Regions from separate parts of the Homo sapiens genome. Here region 2 is linked to region 1. A link means that fine-mapping ties the variant in region 1 to the expression of a gene that starts in the linked region. Tissue or cell type: whole blood. Region 1 holds a variant in brackets; the other region holds the start of a gene. All regions are shown on one strand. Distances are between the middles of the regions.

What was found. PIP is the estimated chance that this variant, and not a neighbour inherited with it, causes the effect.
Region 2: GMPR2 starts here. The variant in region 1 is fine-mapped to the expression of GMPR2 in whole blood (INTERVAL, PIP 0.94).

What each region holds. Positions count from the first base shown.
Region 1 is chr14:24,252,507-24,257,506 of GRCh38, reverse strand. TGM1 (transglutaminase 1) reads left to right here. Exons shown (of 15, transcript NM_000359.3): 10 at 1,430-1,518; 11 at 1,990-2,143; 12 at 2,254-2,535; 13 at 2,683-2,843; 14 at 3,219-3,355. Among named protein-coding and RNA genes, the nearest start is that of TGM1, 8.2 kb to the left of the region's middle. The variant T/G (reference allele first, on the strand shown) is at 2,636.
Region 2 is chr14:24,230,505-24,235,504 of GRCh38, reverse strand. GMPR2 (guanosine monophosphate reductase 2) reads right to left here and starts at 2,576. Exons shown (of 10, transcript NM_001002002.3): 1 at 2,528-2,576; 2 at 2,165-2,286; 3 at 1,907-2,026. The coding sequence starts at 2,251. It overlaps NEDD8-MDP1 (NEDD8-MDP1 readthrough), which reads left to right and starts at 3,138. Exons shown (of 7, transcript NM_001199823.3): 1 at 3,138-3,255. The coding sequence starts at 3,238. It overlaps NEDD8 (NEDD8 ubiquitin like modifier), which reads left to right and starts at 3,138. Exons shown (of 4, transcript NM_006156.3): 1 at 3,138-3,255. The coding sequence starts at 3,238. RefSeq lists enhancers at 2,948-3,242, 2,409-3,274.

The DNA.
Region 1 (5,000 bases):
AAATCAGGGCTCAGATAGGTTCAAAGAAGAAAATAGCCCTTATGACCCTGCCTTAATATATAATTACTGTTAATATAACCAACGGGTCTCTTTTCTGTGTCCACATACATGTGTTTCTGCAGAAATTAGAACTACCATACACTCTGTTCTCAAACAAACCCCCACCCCTTCTTACCGTGATACCCCAGCCCCAGGCCACCAGGCCTGCCCTGCCAGCTACCTTCTGTCCAGCCTCTCCCTTACCCCAGGTCAGAGAGTCCTCCCTAGCCTACATTCCTCCCCTGGCCTCTTCCCAGTGCCCTCCCTCTCACTCAGATATGTGAACACAGCCCCATGAGCTGTGCAACCCGGTGATGCCTGTGATGCTGAAACAGCCTGTCCCAGACGCTGGCAGATCTGAGCTCTGGCCCCCAACTCTGGGAAGTGGTGGGGTGGACATCAGGCAGGGGGCTCAGGGCCAGCCAGACTGGGGCTTGATCCCAGCCTGATCACTTCTCAGATGTATGCTCTTGGGCAAGCACCTCGAACTTTTAGGCTTTGGTGGTTTGGATGTAATTTGGGGTAATAGATACCATATATGGTGATTGGGAGGATTAAATGAGAAATTCTGTATCTGAAGGGACCAGCAGCATGCCGGGAGTGTAGCAGCTACTCAAAAAGTCTGAGCTCCTTTCATTCTCCCTGCACCACCTGTCTTGTGAGATCCTGGCATGAACTTCACCTTGCTGTTTCCCCGTCTGTAAAGGAGTGTGTAGTGTTATGTCTTGTCTAAGATTCTTTCCGGTTGGATGGTACTCACTTACCACTCTGTCCTCTCTTGCCAGGCCTCTTCCTGTCAGCCTATCTCTTCTAGACAGCCTCCTGAGTATGATAAGGGCAGACTCTATTTCCCACCAGCTCCCCCCAGTAGAAAGGGCAGCAGGCTGCAGAGCTGAGGGTTGTTCCGCATCTCTCTGGAATGGTGGTGGCGGTGGTGTCCTCGCTCTCCCAGCCAGCAGGCAGGGCCACTGTGGACTCTGGGTTGGTTATGATAAAGGATGGGGCGTCCTGTCCTCTGGGGGTCACAGATGGTGGACATCCAGTGTCAGCCAGCCATGAAAGAGTATGTCAGGGACTTGGTTATCAGGCAGGCTGGTCCGCACATCTGTACCCTGCCCCCATCCTCCAGCAGAGCAGCCTGGGCTGAGGAAAGCAGATTGAGAGCCAAATGGAGCCGCTCTCTCTTTGTTTTCCATACCTGTGTTGCACTGGCTGTCAACTGACCCCCAAGTGTTTGGGTCAGGGCTGATGACCTTGTTCCAGAGGCCACCAGGCAGTGGGACCGGGCCTGAGTGGGTGGGGCTGGGGCCCTGTGTGGACCTTACCCAGGGTCTGAAGAGCCCTCTCCGCCTTCTCAGATCTCTTGCCTCTGTCCCGCCTCACTCTCTAGGCATCTTCTGCTGCGGCCCCTGCTCTGTGGAGTCCATCAAGAATGGCCTGGTCTACATGAAGTACGACACGCCTTTCATTTTTGCTGAGGTGAGGGCTGGGCTCCAGGTGCCTTCTTGGGCTTCAGTCATGGGTTCTCTGGTCCCAACTTCACCGCTGACTGACCAGCTCTGCGACCCGGGGCAAGTCACTCATTATACAAGTCAGTTTCCTCACCTGTAAAAGGGGATAATCAAGGCTGCCTTGCTTCCTATACTCGGGATCAGAAGAGATAACGGGTATGAAACTGCTTCACTAGTCGTAAAGTCAGCCATTGAGTGTGAGGGATTACTGATATTGCCAAAGTGCTCTGCCAGGAGCCTCCCAGACCAGCTTCTTCCCTGCACTCTGGCCTCGTCTGGCTCGTCTTGGAAAGTCTCCCCTTGGGCTCTGCCAGGAAGCTCCCACCCTTGGGACCAAGCCCTGTCCCATAGCTCCTGGGATCAGGGGAAGGAGGCCGGGAGTCAGGCCACCCTCAGACCCTCTGGCTCACTCATTCCTGCTCACCCCCACCCCCCACAGGTGAATAGTGACAAGGTGTACTGGCAGCGGCAGGATGATGGCAGCTTCAAGATTGTTTATGTGGAGGAGAAGGCCATCGGCACACTCATTGTCACAAAGGCCATCAGCTCCAACATGCGGGAGGACATCACCTACCTCTATAAGCACCCAGAAGGTACCATTCCCCCAACCCAGCCAGCTCTGGGCCCCACAACAAGTGTTCCTGCCAAGTGCTTGGCCACCCACGTGGGAATTGGAACCTCACCCTTGACCCTCAACCCCCAGGCTCAGACGCAGAGCGGAAGGCAGTAGAGACAGCAGCAGCCCACGGCAGCAAACCCAATGTGTATGCCAACCGGGGCTCAGCGGAGGATGTGGCCATGCAGGTGGAGGCACAGGACGCGGTGATGGGGCAGGATCTGATGGTCTCTGTGATGCTGATCAATCACAGCAGCAGCCGCCGCACAGTGAAACTGCACCTCTACCTCTCAGTCACTTTCTATACTGGTGTCAGTGGTACCATCTTCAAGGAGACCAAGAAGGAAGTGGAGCTGGCACCAGGGGCCTGTAAGTGCTCCTTACCCAGCCCTGCCCCCTGGATGGCTGGGCACCTCAGGGCTGTGGACATGGAGACCCCAGGAGCAGTGGGGAGTCCCTGGGGGAAGCC[T/G]CATGTAGGGAAGCAGGCCTCAGTGACGCCATGCCTCTTCTCCACAGCGGACCGTGTGACCATGCCAGTGGCCTACAAGGAATACCGGCCCCATCTTGTGGACCAGGGGGCCATGCTGCTCAATGTCTCAGGCCACGTCAAGGAGAGCGGGCAGGTGCTGGCCAAGCAGCACACCTTCCGTCTGCGCACCCCAGACCTCTCCCTCACGGTGAATGCAGTTTGCTGGGGCATGAGGGGTGGTCAGAGAGTGAAGGCCAGGGGATAAGGACATCAGAGGTGGGCGCTAAGCCAGCAGCAGGCTGGCCTGATGAGCCTTTGTAGGAGAAGGTCAAGGACCGGCTCTGGGGCCTCAGTTTCCTCATCTGTAGCATGGGATCTTATGTCTCTGGTTCTGTGACAGCCTTTATTGAGGAATAGGTTGGAGTTTCTTCTCTGACTTCTGGGGAATCTTCTCTCAGGAGGATAAATGTGGGACTCGGGGAGGTTTTGCTTCTAAGCAGCTTCCCCTCTCTGGTGCAGTGTACGGTCCCCGTGTGTTTGGCCAGGGTCTCTGACGTGGGGGATGGGCCTCTTTTTCTCTCAGTTACTGGGAGCAGCAGTGGTTGGCCAGGAGTGTGAAGTACAGATTGTCTTCAAGAACCCCCTTCCCGTCACCCTCACCAATGTCGTCTTCCGGCTCGAAGGCTCTGGGTTACAGAGGCCCAAGATCCTCAACGTTGGGTGAGTCTGGCCTCTCCCCCTACCCCTGCTTCCACTCTGGCCTTCCCCACAGGCTGCCCTGGCTCCCAGCTTTGCTCCCTCTCTGTCTGGACAAGTATGTTCTGTCAGGACCCAACCAAGCAGGTTGGGGCCAGCTAGCAATACCTCCCGGCCCAGCTCAGTCCCACCAGCCTTTAGGGAGACCTCTTGGGCACCTGGTGCTATGCCATGTCCTTGCCCTGCCTCACTATCTAATTAGGGAGCAGAAGGCCCACATAGGAATCATTAGTAACTCATTGCTAATATTTGCCCAGCACTGAAGAATTGACCAGGCCCTTTCAGGAATATTATCTCCTTTGGACACAAAAACTCTAATTTAAGTACATTAGAAGGCCAGGTGTGGTGGCTCACACCTGTAATCCCAGCACTTTGGCAGGCCAAGGTGAGTGGATCACTTGAGCCCAGGAGTTGGAGACCAGCCTGGGCAACATGATGAAACCCTGTTTCTACAAAAAATTTTTAAAAAATTAACCAGGTTTGGTGCTGTGCGCCTGTTGTCCCAGCTACTTGGGAGTCTAAGGTGGGAGGATCACCTGAGCCTGGAGAGGTTGAGGCTGAAGTGAGCCATGTTTGTGCCACTGCACTCCAGCCTGGGCGACAGAGTGAGACCCCGTGTGTCTCTCTCTCTCTCTGTCACACACACACACAGACACACACACACACACAGAGACACACACACACAAGCGAAGTTTTGGAATCCTAATGATACGGGTTCAGCTCTAGCACTTACTGGCTATATGCCCTTGGGCAAGCGACTTCTCTCCTTCAAGCCTCAGTGTTCTCACCTGTAAAGCAGGGATAGCAATAGCCCCTGGACCTAGGGTTGTTTAGTGCACTGCTTGGCACAAAGTTAGTGCTCCATTGGTAGTTGTTATTTTTATTATTGCCATTATTACCCCCACTTACAGATGGGGAAGCTGGCGGTCACATCTCATATGGTCTCACAGCTCGTAGGGGGCAAACTCTGCTCTTCCCACTGTGGTGCATACCATGCACAGGCTCTCAAACTCATTGTTTGTTTTGTGCCATGAGGGCCAAGTAGCAGTTCCAGAGGAGAGAACTCCATCCCTCAGGCCCTTACCCAGCCCGTCTGGGCCTGATCCTGGGCTGGGCAAGCCCCTGGGTGTAGTGAGGGCACACACATGCTGTGTTCCTGGGCCTGCGGCTGTCATCTTTGATACAGACTTACACGTGCTGCCCCGTCCCCGCCTAGGAAAAGCACGGAGGGAAAGCAGAGCAGGCCAGAGCCTGGCCTTCTAGATCAGCCTTCTGGGACAGGGGCAGGCTTCATCTTCAGACAGCGAGTTCCTGAGAAAGAACAATGGCTTGGGGTGGGGAAACTGAGGGGAGGAAGCAGAGGACCCCCTGCCCACTTGCCCACCCCTCCCTCACACACAGCAGCTCTCCTGGTGGTGGCTGCCACCTTCGCCATTAGGCCAAAGCTGAGAAGGAAGCTATGTTGATCTTTGCCCCAGCCTGGGCCCCTGGGAATGCTATGATGTGTCACAAAGTAGGGCTTTCCTCATGTCACCATACCATGGTCTCTGGCAGCTCAGTGAACAGAGCCTGAACCCCCCGGGTAGCCTGCTCTGCTAGTCTTGCCCAG
Region 2 (5,000 bases), 22 kb after region 1:
ATCTGGGTTGGATTTCATCTGCCAGCACATTCACTGCTTCTGACTTAAAAGGTGACAAGCTGCTGGTGCAGTGGGACAGGCAGCAGACATGAAAGAACCATGAAGAAGCTGGATGGAGCCTGTGTTTCTCTGCACTGACTCAGCCCCTCCTCCTAAGGTAACCTAGTACTAAACTATTTTTGGTTATGTTCTCGTTCATTTACCAGCAGTAATTCAGTAGATCTGGATGCTCACCAAAGGTAATGCCTTAAGGTTGATAAGAGCTGATAAGGGGCTACCCTACCCTGTCTCCATCTCTAGTGGAAAAAAGGACAAATTTCCTAGTTGGGGACATGGATCAAGCTAAAAAATCTGTTTCATTCAGTCCATTTTAATAAAGTTCAAGGACATAATGACTCATCAAACTCATATTCTCTAGCTCAACAGATTGCAAACAATATCCCAATACTTTGAGGAAGGCATTCAAAGGCCATTGTGTATGCTGGTGTTTGTGCCTTACATGTCTACATGCAAACAGACAAGAGACAGCAGTTGGCTGAAACAGCACAAATCTTGCAACTAACAAGAAACCCAAGGAAGTCATGTATTAGCTAGCAACAAGTGCTCTACATACGTACTCAGAGATCAACAATATCTAGCTAAAGCTGGTATTGAATTCTGCTTTCTCAACAACTCTATCATCAACATACTGATAAGCAAAGAAAAGTCACCATAGGATAGGAAGTCAGCAGATGTTGGAGATATACTGGCAGAGTGTGGCATGATGAGCACATCAGATTACATACCAAACTTAGAAAAAGATGTTTGCTTGCATCCAACCTTTTTATTACAGTAAGACTTGGCTCTTATCTCTAAAACCTGATTTCTTTACCTCTCGTCAGCAATACTGAAAGCCAGGCTCCACATAAAGCATCAAGACAGTCCCCAAAAAGGTTCATGTATTACAGCACGCCTGTTAACTCTGCAGTCAGAGTCACCAATTCTGAACTCTACTGGTCAGGGCAGATGGACAGTGGGCAACAGAAAGATTCCTAAGCAGTTACTGAATGGCAATAAAAATAAAGTAAAAATAAAACTGCATAACTATCAACCTTAAAGAAATGACAAGACATTCCACAAAGACACAGCAATCAAAAATAGAAAAAGGATATGAAGTCCTTAAGACTAATGGAGCCACAAACAATAGCAGAATTCATCAACCAGGGCTACATGGATCAACCAGCAGAGTGCATATGTTCTCAAAGTGCCCAGATAACTCTCTACCTTCTCAGCAACAAGTATAGAGGCAGGTAATAGTACTGACAGGAGCAGCATCTTCCATTTCAAAGTGAACAACTTGTATATAAGAAAAACACATCCCATTTGGGGCACATCCCAGAAACTCCCAGGAACCTAGGACTTAAAGAAGAGGAAGATTAAAAAAAGAATGGCAGAAGTATTCTTTTATTAATGAATTGTTCTTATTAAAGAAAATTAATAAGCTGCTTCTCCTAGGATCTTCTAGTTAGGATTTTTGAATGCTTAAACTGTAGTTTCTGGACTAAAACAGTGAATGCTTAATGTGGACAATCGCATAACTGAAGGGATGCATGTGACTGTGAGGGGGTGACCTGGGTGGTGGGAAAAGTTGGCAAGGTGTACAAACTGCTAAACAGGACAAAAGGGAAAATTCTGTTCATATATCAGAAATATCGGAGCAGAACTTAGCTTTGAATCTCACTAATTCAGATGGCCTTTTGAACTTATCAGATAAAGGGCTTCAGTAGTGGAAAAAACCGTAAATCAGAGCATCCTGACTGCTAACTGCCAGAGAACTGACTGGGCATGGGGGTGGGGATGCAAACACCTCTGCAGTCAGCTGGGCTAACTGGACACCAATAGGGATGGGGCATGAGGAAAGCCCTACCTTACAGAGAACCTTGGCCATCTCAAAGGTGCCCACAGTATCCATATTGGCAGCAATGATGGGAACCCCAGAGTATGTCTGCTTTGAGTTCCGAAATGAAAAGGATCTTGTGAGATCCACCTGCAGATATGAACAGGAAATTGACCATTTCATTAATCCAAAAAACGTACCATATTAGGACAAGGACAGGCATCTTTCTTGGTTGTGGCCCACCGGGAGCGTGGGGTCAAGAAACAGCAAGTAGAGAAGCTTGCTCACCTCACTTCGAGACTTAAGGGTACTGCGTTTGGGCCTCAAAAGGACATCCTTGAAGTCCAGTTTCACATCGTTGTCAATATGAGGCATGGCGCTTAGCCTCGGGGTAGCGATGAATCTGAGGGCTGGAAGGCAGGAAGTCATAAGGACCAATCTTCCCCTGGGCTTTAACGCCCTGTTACGGCTGGTGGCCTCTCTTCGCTTAAGTTGTGGAAGGTCGGGCAAAGGCCGAAGTGTGGTCCCTGAAGCCTGTCACCTCGACCCATCCCGTGGCTGCGATTACCCTAGGGCTCCATCCCAGGTACTGTTTGTTGGGGAGGAGAGCTGGGAAAGGGTTGTGAGAGACCCTGACGGTGCATTCCTTACCCCGCTACACTTCCTTCTTCTACCCCTGCAAAGAGCAATGGGGCAAGAGGCTGATTTAGGGGAACGAAGGAATGTTGGCGACGGGGGGCGGGGAGGGTTCATAACTAGTTTCCGGAATAGAGGTACTCACTTCCTGTTGCCTTGGTCCAGGCGGCAGTTGACCAAAGACCACCTTGCTTAGCAACTAACCTCGTGCAATCCCGCTAAGCCTTCTGGGCCACGCCAACAGGTTCCTCTAGTTGCCGGCGAGAACTACTAGCCGACGAATTCCAGCTTCGGCGGCGGCAGGGCGAGGCCTTCTGGATAACAGAGTTCACGCACTGAGGTTGCTGTTGGATCCGAGGGGGTTAGACTACAACTCCCAGGGGGAAACGGGCGGGACCGCCTCCTGGCACGATGGGAGATGTAGTTCGTTCTGCCCCCACTTTTCGCTAGCCCGGGCTCGCCAGGGACTCTCAGAATCGCAGAGTCGTCATCTCTGCTGTTGCTAAACTGGATGCCTCATTCCAATTTACGACGTCACTGAACCGAAACGCGGGAGCAACCCTGAGCCTTTCCGGAACCCAGTGGGGGGGGGGGGGGGGGTGGAGCCAGACAGTGACCCGGAAGTAGAAGTGGCCCTTGCAGGCAAGAGTGCTGGAGGGCGGCAGCGGCGACCGGAGCGGTAGGAGCAGCAATTTATCCGTGTGCAGCCCCAAACTGGAAAGAAGATGCTAATTAAAGTGAAGGTGGGAGCACCTCCAGCCTTGCCAAGACGCAGTAGTACTGGGCTGGCAGCAGTGCCTTACGGGAGACGTGGGGAAGGAAAACCACGCCTTTCCCTAGCCTGGAGGACGCTGACTGCCTCAGGGCTCCGCGCGAGGGGTGGTGGGAAATAGGGGGACCCAGAAGGGCTTTGAGAGCGGGGCCCAGGTCCCACCTGACGACCCTGGGGTATTTTGCCATGCCTGCTTTTTTGCCAGGACTGTGCTATCACCCAGAATGGGGTCGCTTTTGTCGGGTCTCACTGTATTCGAACCCCCGCAGTCATAGAGAAGGCCTAGCAGCGGCTTGACTCCCCCGTCTCTCAGATTCTTGGAGTAAGCGCTGCTCTCCATTCTTCATTCCCAGGGTACCTGCTTCTCCCAGTCCCTAACGTAGGTCGCCTCCGAGCACAGCCCTAAAATCGGGGCCTCCCAAGGGCTAGACTATGAGCCTTTACTGGTGGTTGCCAAGGTGTGGTATCTCACCCGTCCTACAGGAACCAAAGCGGGGAGTGTGTTCAGTCAGTACCTGCCTTTCTGAGCCTGGCATCCTGGACCAGCCTCACTTCCTTGGCTGAGGCAGGTTAGTTACCGCTGCCCTAGTTCTTGCTACTAGCCATGGTTTCCTTCATCTGCATCTCTCAACTCCCGTGGTGGTTCTTCACCAATTTCCAGCCCTCGTTAGTCCTATCTGCTGTTTCCTCTTTTGTGCCTTCAGACAGACAGAGACCCCCCCCCCCACGCCCCCCTCAAAAAAACAAAACTGCTGACAAGTGAAGTCTAATGCTAGTTTGGCCTTTTTGTAGCTAAGTAAATCTATCGTTATTTCATCAGCTTCTTAGCATATTTACCGTACATAATAGTCATTCTTAACCTTCTCTTCCCCAGTCCTTCCAAACTACTTCTTAGCTAAGATTTGAGGTCTAGTATTAAAATAGTATGTTAAAGATGATTTTTTTTAACGTTGAGTAGCGGCCTATATAAGAGTCGTAACATCAATTTAATAGGTGAATGGGTCACTGGCGCCATTAAAAAGAGAAAATAGGCTGGGCGCGGTGGCTCACGCCTGTAATCCCAGCACTTTGGAAGGCCGAGGCAGGCCGATCGCTTGAGCCCAGGAGTTGGAGACCATCCTGGGCAACATGGCGAAACCCTGCCTGTACAATAAATTCAAAAAATTAGCCAAGGGTCTGGGCGCATGCCTGTAGGCCCAGCTATTCGGGAGGCCGAGATGGGAGGATTGATTGATCCTGGGATGTCGAAGCCGCGGTGAGCAGTGATGGCACCACTGCACTCCAGACCCTGCCTGAAAAAAAAGGCCGGGCCCAGTGGCTCACGCCTGTAATCCCAGCACTTTGGGAGGCCGAGGTGGGTGGATCACCTAAGGTGAGGAGTTCAAGACCAGCCTGGCCAACATGGTGAAACCCCGCCTCTACTAACAATACAAAAACTAGCCGGGCGTGGTGGTGGGCGCCTATAATCCCAGCTACTCGGAGGCTAAGGCAGGAGAATCCCTTGAACCTGGGAGGCGGAGATTGCAGTGAGCTGAGATGGCGCCATTGCACTCCAGCCTGGGCGACAAGAGTGAAACTCCATCTCCCCCTGCAAAAAAAAAAAAGAAAGAGAGAGGGGGAGAAAATAGGAAATAATATAGTGCTAGGTAAGGATATTGTTTTATGATTTTTTTTTTTTTTTTTTTTGAGACAGAGTCTCGCTCTGTCGCCCAGGCT